Regions from separate parts of the Homo sapiens genome. Here region 1 is linked to region 2. The links come from fine-mapping of genetic effects on gene expression. A gene starts in region 2. The other region holds a variant in brackets. All regions are shown on one strand. Distances are from middle to middle. Region 1 overlaps ASB2 (ankyrin repeat and SOCS box containing 2). Region 2 holds the start of ASB2 (ankyrin repeat and SOCS box containing 2).

Region 1 (8,000 bases), 22 kb before region 2:
CTGAGCCTGGACACAGCCTCAGCATCTTTCTCAACACAGCACTCTAGGAGGAAACTCTCACTCCATCAGTGTGCGCACAAGATGACCCCTAACTCGCCTTCCCTTAGAGCTGACCTCTGACATCCTTCCCGTGTGCCCTTTGGGGACTCCATGACCTAGGGACCCTTAGCCACTCACCGTACTTGGCTAAGAACCTCAAGGCCTCCAACTGTCCACTCTGGGCGGCCACGAACAAGGGGGTGATGCCGTAGGCGTTCTTGGATTCCACCTTGGCTCCTCCGCTCACCAGGATCTGCATGACCTCCAGGTCATTGCGAGACACAGACTCGTGCAGAGCGGTCCAGCCGCGGTTGCAGCGGTGGTTGGTGTCTGCATTGTGCTGCACCAGAATCTTCACGGCCTCCGCGTTCTTGCGCTCGCAGGCTGTGCTCAGGGGGAAGCAGGGATGGTCAGCAGGGCCTGGCAGGAACTGGCCAGCAGAGACTGCATTCATTCGCCTGTCCATTCACTCATCCACTCATTCAGCTTTCCACTGCATGTGTATTAAGTTCCAATCCCTGCATTGAACCTGGGATAGGCGACTAAAAGTAATACTGATACTAACATTAGCAAGAATACTTGCTGATTCATATGCCTAGTACTGGTTCTGTGCCAGGCTCTCTGTTCTAAGCACATTTTACAGGATTAACTAATTTAATCCTCCCAAATCCCCTTAAAGGATGTAGTGATGTTATCCCCTTTCACAGATAAGGAAGGTGAGGCACAGAGAGGGTAAGTGGCTTGCCCAAAGTCACACAGATACTAAGTGGCAGAACTGGAATTCAAACCCTGGTAGTCAGGCTGAAGGTCTCTGTCCCCTGGGATGTCCCAGGATGTCCCTATCATTTCCCCTTCCAGTGGTACCTGCTTCAGTCCTCCACATTACCAAGGCTGGAAGAATCTTTCTAGATGAGGAGTCAGCGGTGTCATAATCCTGCTGAACTTCCCCCTGCTCCAGCAAAGGCTACTAATTTAGTTCAGGGTAAAATGCACGTTGTGAGTACAGCTCCTCAAGTCTTTCTTGACCTGCTCTAACCTCCTTTATAAGCCTCATCTCTCTCTAGACCCCAAACGTGCCCTTGGCTCTGGCCCCAGAGTTCTCACCAGGAGCTGCAGGTGGTATTGGAGTCACCTGGGCACTTTTCCAAATTAACCAGCCCTGGAAGCTTCTCTGTGTCCGTGTCAGTGGGAGGAGGAGTGAGGAATGGGTCAGGGAGACTGGCAGCAGGGGGAGGAGGGCTGCCTGTGTACTGTTTCAAATAGAACCATAGGCCAAGCCTTCTACCTCTCTAAGCCTTGACTTTCTCATCTGTAAAATGGAGAGAATAAAACCTTCTTGAGCAGATGCTATGGGAGTGAGACTGTGTGTAAGGCATGAGCATAGTGCTTGGCACATAGTAGGTGTGCTTGCAAGACCAGGGCCAAGCTCTGGCTGTGGGCTGCCCAGCTTCCTGGGCACTCCCTTTGGACAGCTGAGGTTCCAGGTGATAGCCATGGCGCCCTGGCAGGCACGGATTCCAGGGAAGACACTTCCATGGTGGGTCTGCAGCGGATCCAGTGACCTACTACTCAGTTCCTGCTGCCCAAGCTGTTCCAAGCACTGGATAGACACATGGGAAATCAGGGATATCTGTAATTTTTCCAAGTACAAAGGCCTGATCATTTGTAAGACCCCAGCTGATTGCTTCAGCATGTAGGCATGGACAGGATGCTTTAGAATGTAGTAGTTGAGGGCAGTGTGACATCCACCTCCCTGAGTTTAAACCACTGGGGTACCCCTTGCAAGCTGTGTGATCCTGGGCGACCCATTTAATGTCTTGGTGCCTTAGGTCCTCATATGTGAAAGGGGATACCAGCAGTGCCTACTTCATGTGCAGATGGACATGAGGGGTCCATAAGAGAACGGTGCCTGGCACATACTAAACACTCAATCAATGCTAGCTATTGTGATTATTTAGACTTTGACTCTGGGTACTGCTAGGGCAGCCAACAAATGTCCATGGATGATGTACTGAGTAAGCCAGGAGGCCTTGTTTTTCTTAAACAAATGTCCCAGAGGTACATGCTCTCGCATACCTTCATGCCTTTGCCTGTGCGGTTCCCGCTGCTTGGCCAGCAGGTGATTCCTCCTCTGTGGTTCAGCTCAGGCACCCCTCCTCTGGGTGCCCCTCCCCCATGCTCCCACAATGCCTCCTGCCAAGCCCTTTCCTGCTCTCTGTGTGTGGGTGCCTACAGGGCTGGGAGGGTGCACAGGTTGGACTATAGCTTTTCAGCTCCAAGCCCTCAGTGTCCCTCAGCATCCTGGCCCATGGGATGCAGTTGGAAAATGTTGGTAAAATACATGCAGGAATGAATGATTCAGTTACATAAATTGTGCATTTGAGCAGGGCCACGTTGGGGGTTATGCACTTAACGGGAGCAACATTCCCTGTTGCTCACCCAGCTTCTGGATTCTTCCGCAGGAAAGCTCACTCCGGGGTGGGGACCTCACCTTTGTAGAGCGGTGTCTCTCGGGATTTGTTGGAGATGTCCGGCTCTGCCCCTGCTTGGAGCAGTGACAGGAGACAGTCCAGGTGGCCCCTGCACGTTGCCAAGTAAACGGCTGTTTCCTCCTGCAGGGTGCGCTGGTCGATGGTCCCTGGGTACGCTAGGGAGGGCCCACCGGGAAATTCATGTAGGAGAAAGATACTCAGCCCCGCAACACAGAGGCTTTCCCGATTGCCTCCCAATTTCAAGAACAATGTATGACATCCTCTGAAATTTACCAACTACAGACTGCATTCATCTGGCCCTTTCACAGGGCCATTTTAGCTTCCTGGTCGTACACGTCCAAGCTCAGATGCCACGTCCTCTGAGAAGCCTTCCCTAATGGAGCCCCTCCCTCTTCGAATACTCCTGTCCTTTCCTCGAACTCACACCAGCCATTGCTGGAAACCCACTGTTACATGCCATGGTTTCTTGGAGTGTCGGGGGCCGTGTGGGGTCTGTGCTGCTTCAGGGCAGAGGTGACACCTGCCTGCAGGAGTTGCCCTTCTGAACCTGGCTCAGTAGGAAGACAGGGCTCAGAGAGGAGGCACGGCTGTCCCGCGGTCCCACAGCAGGTGGGGGATAGCCTTGGCCGGGCACAGGCACAGCTGCAGTATTTTTCACACCAAATCAGCCCCTGGGACATTCTGGAACAAGTTGGCAGTGGTTCTTCTAAAAGTCAGCCCTCCCTCATTCCTTTTCTAGGAATTAGGCTCTCCTGTCCTTGGAGGCCTGGAGAGGTGGCAGCAGGGGGTGGGGACAACTCATTTCCCCTCTCGTAACTCCATGACTAACTGACAAATGAAAGTGACAGCCTTGCCTGCCCTTCTCCCAAGATGATTGTGGGCAAAGAACATGAAGCCCCAGGAGCGGCAGCCCTTCCCCTAGTCCCTTTCCCACCTCTTGCCACCGTCAGAGCCCAGCCCTCACCTCGCTGCAGGACTTTCAGGCAGCCCACCTGGCCATAGTATGCGGCCTCGTGCAGCGGCAGCCAGCCCTCCTTGTTGGGCTCTGCGAGATTCTTCCCTTCCTTGATCATGGTCTTCAAGGCCTCTTCATCGCCATCCTTGATGGCCTTTATCAAGGGGTCCGCAGGCCTGTGAGAGGAAGGAGTGGGTCAGTCCTCAAGGTCAGGCCAAGGCCAGGCCAGGGGGCCTCTCTCTCAGGAGTGCTGGCAGTGGAGTCACTCGGTCCTCGTCCCTGCTGGTTCCAGGATGAGCACTCAGCCCCCTGCAGCCCAGTGGCTGCAAGAGGACTGGGGGATCCCTCCATCTCTGTGGCTTTCCATGGCTGCCGGGAATGTTATACCAAAACCAATTCTACCAAGAGGATTCAGGCACACAATGCCAGCCTCCTAGAGGGTGGCTAACCACCCACATGTGAGGCACTTGTGATAATTAAATGCTTTCCCTGAGTATAGCACTCTAGCATTTACCAGGCACGCCCATCTCGGGGGCCCCCTCTTAACCCTGAGCATATCTCTGGGGTCTTCCAACTCCTCTCCTTGCCCTGTCGCTTATTCCTACTCCCAGTACATCCAGCTGCAGAAAAAAAATATATACTGGAAGGATTAATAAATTTGAAGCCTTCACAGTTTAAAACTTCTGAATGTCAAAAAGATTTGAGGGCTAAAGTGAAGCCGTTCCTTGCTTGGCTTGTTAAAGTCCCTTTGTTCATTCATTGCTTCCTTCCTTCCTTCATTCATTCACTGAGCTCCCTACCTCATCCTTGGAGAGTCCGTGAGAACCACGATGTCTATGCCTCTCAGATCCACTTTTGGGGAGGCTTCTGCATCAATAGTCCCATTTCCCAGATGGAGAAGGTGAGGCTGGAGGCAGGCCTCATTCCCAGGACACCCACGCCATGTTGGGCTAGGATGGGCTCTGGGCGGTCTCTGCCACCAGCCCCTGCACTCTCCCAGCCACTTCCTCCAGCGTGAGCAGCACTTCCTCCTGACTCTCAGACTCTGTGGTTATTAAT[G/A]GTGTCAGAGCACAGATGCCGGTGAAGCAACAGACCCAGCAAGGACGATGGGAAACTGATCAGATAAGTCCTGAGGTCCCCATCAGCACCGTCACTGCCACCTTGACGAGTTCCACTTAGGAACAGCCAGAGCAGCCCCTGTCAGCATCAGGAAAAGCCCAGTGGGGGTATGTGCCCCCCTTTTCCTGGAGTGTCTCCAAAGGGACCCCAGCTGAAGTGGAAGGGAGGAGGGCTGGCTTTTCTCGTGGCCTTGGCGAGCAGGGCGTGGTGCAGTGTCGTGAGAACACTTTCAGGACCTGCCGCCCAGCTTGGGTCTCTCCAGCTGTGATGCAAGGACCCTGGAGCCCTCAGCCCACATATTCACAGCTTCTCCATGACCTCAGGCAAAGTCCCCGCCCTATGAGTGGGGGAGGGTTCTGGGGGTGTCAGGCCATCAGAGTAGTAAGCTGGACGGGACCCTAGAGGTCACGTTGCCCTCTCCAGCCGTGTCCTGCAGAGAAGGGAGACTCAGAGGGGACAGCGACTCTCAGGCAGTCATGCAGGAGGTGGCAGTAGCTGAGACCAGCTCTGGGTCTCCCTTTTCCAGATTGTCAACCACTCCACACACCCACCACACCAAGGAAGTGGAGGGCGACAGGATTTGAAAAAGGCTGGGAAGGAGAAAGAAAATATTGGCCAATTGCCTCCTCCCTTCTCTACAACGTAACTGAGTGAGGAAATGCAGTTCCAGTGATAGGGTCCCTCTTTTGCTTTTGGCTGCTTCCGGGGTCACTATTCCAGGGGTACAGAGAGGGGAGGGAGGCAGAATTATTTTCTAAGGAGCGCATTAGCCCTGCCCCCTGGTGCCAGGCAAACAGAGCCCCTGCAGCTTAGATTATTTCTGGATTTTAGCACCTGGCACTTCACAAATAAGGGCAAATAAACAAAACAAAGGCTGTGGGTGTGGGCATTTTGGATGTACCCACAGCGATGGCATGGGGGAAAGTGAGACTGGGACAAACAGAAGGGTGCAGCCAACTCATCAAGTTCAACTCCAAGCTCTCCTGGGCCTCTGGGGTTCTAAGGCCATCTCCCCAATTTCCCTCGTGCTGGGTCCCCAGTTTCAGAGCCCCATGGGGCTCCTCCAGCACTCAGGTCCCATGCTGGGGGCATCTGAGGGGGGGATCACCAGCATGCCTGGCTGGAAGTTCCTTGAGGACTGAAGTCTGTGGCCACCAAGCCCATCTCAGCAGGAGCAGTGGGGCCCCAGGGGGGCACCCCTAGAAGGAGCGTGCCTGGCAGGTGCCTCCATAGTGCCCTCTGCCCTCCTGGGGGCTGTGGGCCTGCTTCCCACCCTCCCTGCCATCCCAGTTAGCGGAGTGAACTTGGATGGTCCTGGGGCCAGACAGGAGTCACTTACGCCAGCTGGGAGGTCTTGAACAAGCTGCTGCTGTATTTCTGCATGACCCCTTGGAACAAGCCCATTGGGGCCCGGGCCGGCGAACTCTCAGGAGGTGCAGTGGACCTGGAGGGTGCAGAGCAGGAGTGAAAGAGGGAAAAGTACTCTGCATAGGAGAAGCGGGTCATGGCTTCAGGCAGGAATGAGGATGGAGGGAGAGCCAGGGAGAGACTGACTGACAGACACAGGGCTCTGAACCAAAGCAGATGGCCGGGTCCTCTGTGTGCTGGACACAGCTGCTGTGTCTCCGGATTATTTTTGGCCCTTGGAGGAAGCCCTGGGAGATTTAAATGACCATATAAGACAACAATGAGGTTAACCTCACCCCACCCCCCGGTCCCCCTCCCCAGCCAACCACGAAAGAGGCAGATAGGAAGCAAGGTGACATTCTTCACCCAGGAGGATGTGAGCCGTGGTCGGCAGGTCCCAGGATGAAAGGGGCTCAGGCTCACTGCTGGCCAGGCAGATCCCTGCGGGGCTGGATGAGAGATTCATGGCAAAGCAGAGGATAGGGGAGCAAAGCTGAGAAGCCAAGCTGTACCTGTGCCCCCCACGCCCACCTGCCAGCTCATTAGGGGATCTTGTCCCAGGGGTAGGAGCAGACACTATAGTAACCTCTATAGTGTTATTATAGGATGCATGAGGAAGGGCGTCGGAACCAGGGCTGCAGTCAGACAGACACAGGTTCACATCTGGGCTCTGGCACTCCTTGGCTGTGTGACGTGAGACAGGTTGACCTTTTCTGTGCCTTAGTCCCCGCTCCTGCAAGGTGGCATGAAAACAGCCTGTGCTCGAGGGCCGGTGAGGCCTGAGTAAGTGAATGGTGTGAGGAGCTTAGTGGAGTGTGAGGCACAGAGGGTGTTCCACATGTACTCACTCTTCATTTTATCATCATTTTGCCTCTCTAGGCCTCAGTTTTCCCGACCCACCAGGCTCCTGTGAGGGTGGAAGAGCCGGAAGGAGGTGGGATGGCCGCTCCACAAATCTGAGTTGGCCTGGGGTTGTCGTGAGAACAGGGTATATGGCCCCTACTGACACCACCCCCAGTAGGTCAGGCCTGGCACTCTCGACACCCCAGTGGCCCGGGCCTTTCACCACACTCTTCTGGGGGGGATTGGGGAGGACTCTGCTACCAGTGACTCACACCCTGTGGGGCATGGGGTAATTATGACCCTGAGAAGCACCCACACTCTTTCTGGCTAGGCCAGAGCCTACAGATTCTGTGGGTACACCCCAGCAAGGCCAGAGCCTGGTAGAGAGGAGCAAGGGTGGCAGGAGGAGGGGAACCTGCTCACCCCTCTGCTTCATGCTCTCAGGGCTGCCTGCAGGCCTGGCTGCCTTCCTCATCCTCGCCGCTGTCACGCCCTCCCACCTGCCTTCTCCCATCCCCTGCTTCTGGCCTTCTACTGACCCGCACTGGGGTGGGCAGGACACCGCCTGCATGTGTCCTCATTTATCCACATCCATCAACCGTAGATGGGGGTGCCTTTTACAGATGAGGACAGGGAGGCTGTGAGAGGGGACTTAACTGTGCAGGGTCACCTTCAGCATGACAGCGAGTGGAGCAGAGGTTCAGACTACCACTGTCCGCCCAGCTCCTGATGCCACCCTGTCCTCTGAAGGCCTGGCCTCTTCCTGCCTTTTCGTCCTCTCTCCAGCTCTCCGACCTCCACACTGACTGTCCCTGTGACTTTGGACAAGCCCCATCCCCGCTCTGTGCCTCAGTTTCCTTATTTGCAAAATGGAGAAGTGGGACCAGGACCAGACTGGGGATGTCCACACTGTTTCTGTAGCTGTGGAGAGATTCAGTGTCCAACAGATCCCAGAGCCAAGGCCCCTCCTCAGCCCTGACAGCTGCTGGGTTCAGTGTCCTTTGCATTAGTGCCTGGTCCTGAGAAGGAGAGACAGCCGGCAGGTGGAGGCAGCCTGGGGCCAGGCTCACCTCAGCTGTCTCCAGCCCTGTCGTCTTGATGAGGCCCTGGGCTTCCACCTCCCAGGATCCTTGGGTCACGGCCAC
Region 2 (8,000 bases):
ATCTCAGACCTTTTGATGCTGATTTCAAGCTCCCGGCTTTCGGGTGCCAGGGCCTTGGGGCTTCCAAGGCTGGGCTGGGGCTGCTGGAGGTGACTCAAGAGGTGTGCTCAGGGCTGCAGGCCCCAGCTGACTCCACAAGACAGGGCTCTTCTCTTTGTATGGAGTAGGGGTGTGACTGCCCCTACATAACCCTGTAGGAGGTGACAACCAGGGATTTGAACCTGTCCAAAGCTGGCTCTGCTCCCACGCCAGCAGACACTCTGTGCCCATTGTATAGAGGAGGAGACTGAGGCTGCATCTGAAATGGAGCGCCTCTTGCTGATCCAAATCTTGGTGAATCTCTCCCGAAGAGTCTAAGACCCTAACGAAAAGTCTTGGTAATTTATTTACTTATTGATGTACATTGAGGATGCCACTCCAAAAAGAGAGCAAGAATGATGGTGAGAGGAAGAGAGGGAAGAAGGAAAAACACAGGAAAAACCTCCCTGTAGAAGGTTTTTTGAATGTGGAAAGTGCCCTGTTGCAATGATGAGCATCCATTCTGCACAGGACATGCCCACTACCTGCGGCAGTGCCCACACCACCAGCTAAGAAAAGCACCCACAAAAGTCAAGCTTCCAGTTTACTTCTTTGGGCCCCTGAGCTATTGAGTCTCCAGGCCCATGGGTGACCTTCGTCTCCACCTCCTGAGTGAAGGGCCCTTCTGCTGCCTCCTGGCCCTGCCAGAGGCTGGCCCCTCCCCGCATCTGTGTGGCTCAGACACTCACAGCTCAGGACACAGGATTCCAGGCCCCTGACCCATATTCTGCCCAGGCACTACCAATGCCAGGATCTGCCATCTGTGCCAGTGACCAAAGGTGGGGGTGACAGGGGTGGACGGGGCTGGTCAGTCCACCTCTGAGCCTCCCCAGCACCCCTGCCCTAGCACAGCCCGCCTAGCCCTGTTCTGTCCTTTGGGCAGACAAAGACGGCGGACCCTCACCTTGGTTCCTTAGTGGCAGAAGACACAGGGGGTTCTGGAGGCTTTAACTCCAGGCAGCAGAGCGGGAAGGCTCAGGCAGGGCAGGGGGAATCCTCCATAGCCCCTCCTCACCTGCAGGGCTGGCTGGAAATCTTTTAAGTTAGATCTCACCCAAATCGGCGAGGTTCTTTTTCCTTTTTTATCCTCTCTCCTCTGAGTTCCCCTGACCCCGCCTCCATTTAAATCTTTCTCTTCTCTTTTCTCTGCTTTCCTCTCTCCTTTTTTACTCCTCTATGTCCCATTCTTTTTAAAAAACAGATAGTTTAGGAATTTCAATTTACCTTTATTTCAGCACCACCTCCCCAAAAACATTCCTCCCAACCACAAAGCTCTTAATAACTTCATTTATATTCCTGGGCGTTAATTATTCCAAACAATGGTGCTAAGGAAAGAGAACCACAGACACAAGCCACTCCTGTGACAGCTGGCTCCTGTGGGCAGCCTGATCCTCTGCAGCGCAGAAATGGAAGGACACTGGGCAGGCCCAGAGATATTTTTGTGCCTCCTTTGGGAAGGCTCTTTGGATCTAGCCTGTCCACAATATACGGGCACCTTATGATGCCTTGAGTGTGCCAGAGACATTTCCCCTGGGTGCACGATGGTCCTGTTTACCACTGCCACAGTACCTTGAGAGGCCACAGGACGCTGTGGCTTTGAATGTGGACCTTGCAGACCAAAAGGTCAGATTCCTGACTCCAACACTTGCAGCCGTCCAGCCTTAAGCAAGACTTTTAAGCTCTCATAACCTGTTTCCAGACCTGAAAATGGGAGTAACGATCACCTGTAACTCATGGTAGCCTTGACCGAAGTCAGTGAGAGAAATCTGCACACAAGCTTGGGCCAGTGCTCAACAAAGGCTTGCTGGTATGGCCTGTGTTGTTGTTCACTGTGAGGTCACCGTGCGTGGGTTAGACAGTGTCCCCCACCCCCGCCACCACAAGGCACTCATGACCCGGCCTGTTTGTGCAAGAACAGATGATGCAAACCAGCATGGCACCCAGCGGAGCTGCTGCCAGCTTCTTGGGGACGCTGTGCAGCACATGGGCCTGCCACCAGCTGTCAGGACCCGTCCAACTGTTTTGGAAGTGCCTCGAGCATCTGCCACTGTCTGCCTCATGGTGCTTCTGCCCAGGCAGAGGTCAGGGCTGTGGCGGGGGTGCTGGCCCCAGCTGGCTCTGCCTGCGTCCCTCTGAGCCCCCTCAAGCCCTCGCCTCACGAAACAAGCTTATCTTCAGAAGAGCATTCCTGTCCTGTGCAGGGGCTCAGCTTCTGCCCTGCTTCAGGCCTTCCTCATTTACCTGCCCTCCCTAGGAGTCACCAGCCTCCTTGCCTCCTCATTCCAGTGCATACCCCTGGCTTCCCGAAGAGCCACCGAAGCCAAATCTCACATCCTCCAAGGGGAATGGGCCACTGAAATGAAAATGATTCTCCACCTAGAGGCACCAGAAACCAAGTCATGTTTCTGGGCCTCCACCTCTGGGGCCTGAGATGTGAACACACGGGTGGGAGTGTAGGTGCCTGGCTGTGTCCCTTCATATCCCAGATGCTCAATGCATGTGGCTATGTGCATGCCGTCCTCTGCTCAAAAACTCTCAGAAAGTGTTCCAACTTCTTGCTTGGCCTGGAAGGATGTGCCTCTCCCTCTGGCCTCCCCTTCTAGCCTCACCCCCATTTTTCACATGCAGAACCCTTTGCCAGAGCCACATTTCACTTTCCATCATCACCCCAGGTCCCTTGACTTCCCTGCCTTTGCCCAAGCTGCTCCTCCACCTGGAGGTCTCTGTTTCCACCCTGAGGCATCCCACCCATCCTTTCAAAGGCCATGGCCTCCTTAAATGTGTCATGCATATGCGTGTGCACACACATGCATGGTATTCTTGCATCCCTGCATTCCACAGCTTTGTTGGATCTCACATAAATAACATTCCTCCATTTCCTCTCCTAATCCCCAAACAGTTGAAAGCAGAGCACATGGCACCTTGGCTGCTATGGTCTCCCACAATACCGTGCATGCCTAGGCACTCTGCAACAGCTACATTAAATTAACTCCCACTCATGAAAACCTCTATCTGTGCGCCTGGCCTGAAAGCATTTCTGAAAGTCACTTGTCTGACACAGATACCGCCCAAGACCTACAGACCCAACAATAGCATCATTGATAAGTCCTTTTGCATTTCCATTTTTAGAAGTGCACAGCAGAGTGATATTCTGAGCCAGAGTCCTCCAGAAGAATGGGTAAGTACATGCAAATTGCTGAGTCTCTGTTCATTGCATCCAAAACGAAAGTCACCAGCGTGCTGTATAACTCAAGAAAATACGAGAGAGAGGGAAAAGCAACATCACAGTTTGACTACAAGCGGTTTCCAGTAAGTACTGCAGCCGAAAATCCCCACCAGCCAAAGAATCTTTTGCAAGATCTGTATAAGAAAGTTGAAAGCATGCATTACCTGTTAGGCTCTGAAACAAGGGTACAATTCAGGGGTAATACAAAGGATTTTCTTGAAAGTGTCTTAATTCAGAACATGCTCCCCGAGTTTTCCTTCTGCCCTGGCCCCAAGCTTCTGGCTGCTCTGCCAGGCAGTTCTGAAACGCTGTCCTTTGAAGCAGGGAGTTTATTTTGGGGCCACCGCATGACCAACGTTGACAAGCCAAACTATAAGATGTTATACATCTCAGATTTCCTGTTTGGAGGTTGCACTGAGGAAGCTGCAATCCTGCCTTCCGTTCCTCCGGGTGCATCGAATACAGACTCTCACTTCAGAGAGGATCCCGGAGCTTTGGCCCTCACGTGATGTCATCATTTGTGATCCTTGACATGGAGGCCATATATGGGTATGTTTCTGGAACTACCCAGGGGAGAGCCAGACAGGAGAGAGATGCAGTGGGTCAGAGACAGAGGCAGGGAACGAGGACGAGGAGACGCATAGTTGGGAGACAAAGAGTGAGGAGCAAGGGAGGAGGAAGAAAGGGGAAGAGGAGAAGTAAAGGCAACAAAGGAGGGAAGGCAAGACAGCAGGAAGGAAGAGGATGGAGTGAAAGAGAAGGGAAGAAGGGGAGAGAGGAGATGAAGGAGTTGACGTAAAAGGGCTTTGGAGAAATCAAGGTTTGGTGCTGAGCTTGTGGCAGCATTTGGGGATAGCAGGTGTCTGGCTGCTGGATACTGTGGGGTGGGGCTGGGGATACAAAGGGCCAGGGTACAAATGAGCCAACAAACAAACACAGAGGCATGCGGGCAAGCCCTGGGCAGAGATATACAACAGAAGAGAGCCCTTCCTCCTGGTCTAGGGAAGAACGTCCCATTTCTGGAATAGGTCAAATGTCAAAGACAACACATACACAGCCACATGCACTGAGCATCCGGGATGTGACAGGACATGGCCAGGCACCTACTCTCCCACCCGTGTGTTCACATCTCATGCCTCAGAGTTAGGGGTCCAGAAACATGACTTGGTCTGTTCCTCTAAGGGGAGAATCATTTTTGTTTCAGTGGCCCATTCCCCTTGGAGGATGTGGATTTATGATGGCCACAGCATGATTTCTCACTGATTCAAACTCAGGAAACCTCAGGATGCCTTTACACGCACTTCGAATATTCCACAAGGAAATACATCTCAGTATACAAGGTGCCACGGGGTTGAGTCAAGGTTCTGGAGGTCTGACTGGTGCTAAAGATGGGAAGGACACCAGTGGTCCCCAGGCAGTCCCCCAGCTTCCCTGGTACCTGCCAAATTGCTCATCACCCCAGCTGGGTCAGTCTTCCCAGGCCACTGTGGCTGGGTGGCCCTCAAAGTTAGCTCAAGTTCAGCCCCTTCCAGACCCATGTGCTATGGAGGGAGTGTAGGAGAAGGGCAGAGAAGGGGCTGTCAGATTCTTTTTACTTTTTGGAGACTCTGCTACCCAGTAGGATGTTCCCCGAGAGACGTCTCTGTGGGACGGCTCCCCGAGGCCGGGCTGCTTTCCTGGGCTCCTTGCTGGAGGCAAAACACAGGTTCCTCTACTTCCTGCCCACCACCTGCCCCTTCCCAATCTGACCTGGAAGGTGGGCTGTGGCCAGGCCAGGCCCCTCCTAGGTTGCCCTCTGCCTCATGGGCATGCACACATGCACACACACACACACACATACACACCCCAAACTCCATCCAAGATGTGTCTATTCCTTCCCTCCCCTTGAATATGGGGTGGCCTAGTGATGGACTTAACAATAGAATGCAGTGGAAATGATGTCCTGAGACTTCCAAGGCTAGGTCATGAGATGCTTTGTAGCTGCCATGTTGTGAGGAAGTCCAAGCAAGCAACACCCAGGGCCCCCAGAGCATCTAGCACCAGGCAGAGGGGTGAAGACACCCTCTCGGAGGTGGATCCTTCACCTGCAGCTGCCACAGCTAATGCCACGTGGAGCAGAGACAAACCACCCACAACTTCCTGACCCATAAACCACAAGCTATGATAAAAGGATTGTTTCGTGCCACTGGGGATTGAGGTAGTTTGATATGTAGTAATAATCAACCCAGACACTCACCAAATATTCACTGCGGTCTCAGCTGCATGCTCCTCAGCTCTCGTGTGCTACCCGTGAACTTTTTTCTGACTTTCCACTTGTCTTTGTTTCCATTTAAAAGAAGAAAAACAGATTCAAACTAAATTTTTTTTTACCTCACTCTTTACAAAAGAATGTAGTCCCAAGTCATTTCCCAGTTCTTGGGTTTATCAGACCAGAAGCTCCTTTTGGCTGAGATTCTGTCTTACAGGGGAATTGTGGTCCCTCTAACTGGAGGGACTCTTGGCTATCCTGGTGTTCAGAGCCCTCATTTACTAGTTCAGGCCCCAAGAGGTTCTGTGCCTTCTCTGAGATCACCTGGCAATTTGGGGGCAGAATAATTCACACATTGAAAGCCATGCCAGTGGGAACCATGCCCCATGGGATCAGACGCTGATGTCCTAAAGCACAGACACTCTCCTGACAAAGGCAGGGACAGCGTTCAAGCATCTGACTCGAGCCTGTGGAGGGCAGGCAGTGTGACCCAGAGGAAAGAGAACTGTGCTGGGATCTGGCCCTAGCTGCTCATTAGAATCATATTACACTTACCTATGCCTGCCCCACCCCAGAGATTCTGATTTAAATAATCTGTGTCGAGGCCCAAACAGGACTGATTTTTAAAAACTTTTTATTAAAGTTCAGTATACCCACAAAAAAGTGCAACTTTCACATATGTACAGCCCAGTACATTTTCACAGACTGGACACACCCAACATCTGAATATTACAAGCACCTCAAGAGCTCCCACCACCCACCACCTCCTGCCAGGGGTGACCACTCTCCTGACTGCTAGCAGGACAGGTTCCTTTGAACTTCATGTGAATGAAATCATTGCGTCTCGTTTCATTTAACAACACATTGCGAGACCTGCCCATATTGTTTCATGGAGTTGTAGATTGTTATTTTAATTGCTGTGTAGTATTCCATGCTATGAATATATCACAATTTATTCATTCTACTGTTGATGGACATCTGGGTGGTTCCCAGTTTTGGGCGATGATGAAGAGTGTAGCTATGAACATTCTAGTACATGTCTTTTGGTAAATATTCATACTCCTTTCTCTTGGGTATACACCTAGGATGGGGATCACTGGGTCAGAGTTTAGGTCTTCTTTCAACTTGAGTGAAACTGTCACATGGCTTTCCAAAGTTGTGTCAGTTTGCACTCCCATCAACCAGGCATAAGAGTTCCAGTCACTCTATATCCTTACCAACAATTGGTAGATTCCATCTTTTTTCTTTTTTTTTTTGAGATGGAGTCCTGCTCTGTTGCCCAGGCTGAAGCGCAGTGGTGAGATCTCGACTCACTGCAACCTCCACCTTCTGGATTCAAGCGATTCTCTTGCCTCGGCCTCCCAAGTAGCTAGGATTACAGGTGCCCACCACCACGCCCAGCTATTTTTTTTGTATTTTTAGTAGAGATGGGGTTTCACCATGTTGGCCAGGCTGGTATCGAACTCCTGACCTCAGGTGATCTGCCCGCTTCAGCCTCCCAAAGTGCTGGGATTACAGACGCGAGCCACCGCACCCAGCCTCCATCTTTTTTCATATTATCTATTTTGATGGGCATCCGTGGCATCTTGTTGCAGTTTTAATCTGCACACCCCTGATGACAAATTACGGTGAGCATTTGAGCAGCCCTGGCCTCAGTGATCTCTGGAGCCTTTCCGGGGTCCCTAACTTTGCACAAGGCCCACCAGCTACCCTGGGAACAGCCCTCCAGGGAGGGTTTTTGTGGGGAAACAAAGGGAATAGAAGGGGAATAAAAATGCAGAGGCAGAAACTATGCAACTGATCAACCTGCAAGGGAGTGGGAAGAAGAATGTGGCCACCACAGGAAAGCCCCAGGACTCACACCTGGAACCAAGGTGGGTTTCACTCTCCCAAGCCTAACTAGAACCTGCCCTCCCTTACTCTACCCCCTCACCTGGCATTATCCTCCCTGCTGACCTATTCTATATTTATCTCCCATATGTGCATTGCCTGTTTCTTCCATCTAGAATACTTTGTCCTTCTGTTCACTGCTGTGTGTCGGTGTCTATAGCAGTGCCTGGCACATAAGAGATGCCCATTCCATAACTGTTGGACATGTGTGCCCACACTCAAGCCCACAGTCCCTGAGGCAGAATTGGGAAGGGCCTTGGTTCTGCCTGCCAACCCGAGCCTGGCCGGTGGCTACAAAGACACACACACACTTTAGGTCTCTCCCTTCCAGACATCCCTCTCTGTTTATGTCAGCCTGAATGCCCAGGAATAAAGGGGTGCATGTATGTATTGGAGAGGCCATTTGCAGGGCCCTATACCTAGTCGGGTCTAGGGGGAACCAAGACCAGCACATGTTTCTGTGACAGTGACACCTCTTCCAGAAGGAGGGAAGGAGAGTGGAGGAGGAAGAGCCAGCCAAGAGCCCCCGGGAGCTGAGCTGTGAGTCAACGCCAAGTC

What was found. PIP is the estimated chance that this variant, and not a neighbour inherited with it, causes the effect. A credible set is the group of variants that fine-mapping cannot tell apart.
Region 1: its variant is the best candidate, but not a certain one, in a credible set for the expression of ASB2 in blood mononuclear cells (TOPMed, PIP 0.89).

Annotation. Positions count from the first base shown.
Region 1 is chr14:93,950,822-93,958,821 of GRCh38, forward strand. It overlaps ASB2 (ankyrin repeat and SOCS box containing 2), which reads right to left. Exons shown (of 10, transcript NM_001202429.2): 3 at 5,945-6,049; 4 at 3,496-3,662; 5 at 2,531-2,686; 6 at 178-423. Among named protein-coding and RNA genes, the nearest start is that of MIR4506, 6.5 kb to the left of the region's middle. RefSeq lists enhancers at 3,077-4,054, 4,165-4,871, 4,872-5,576. The variant G/A (reference allele first, on the strand shown) is at 4,546.
Region 2 is chr14:93,972,966-93,980,965 of GRCh38, forward strand. It overlaps ASB2 (ankyrin repeat and SOCS box containing 2), which reads right to left and starts at 3,605. Exons shown (of 10, transcript NM_001202429.2): 1 at 3,469-3,605. LOC107984663 (a long non-coding RNA gene) reads right to left here. Exons shown (of 4, transcript XR_001750861.2): 4 at 4,460-8,000. RefSeq lists an enhancer at 2,086-2,657.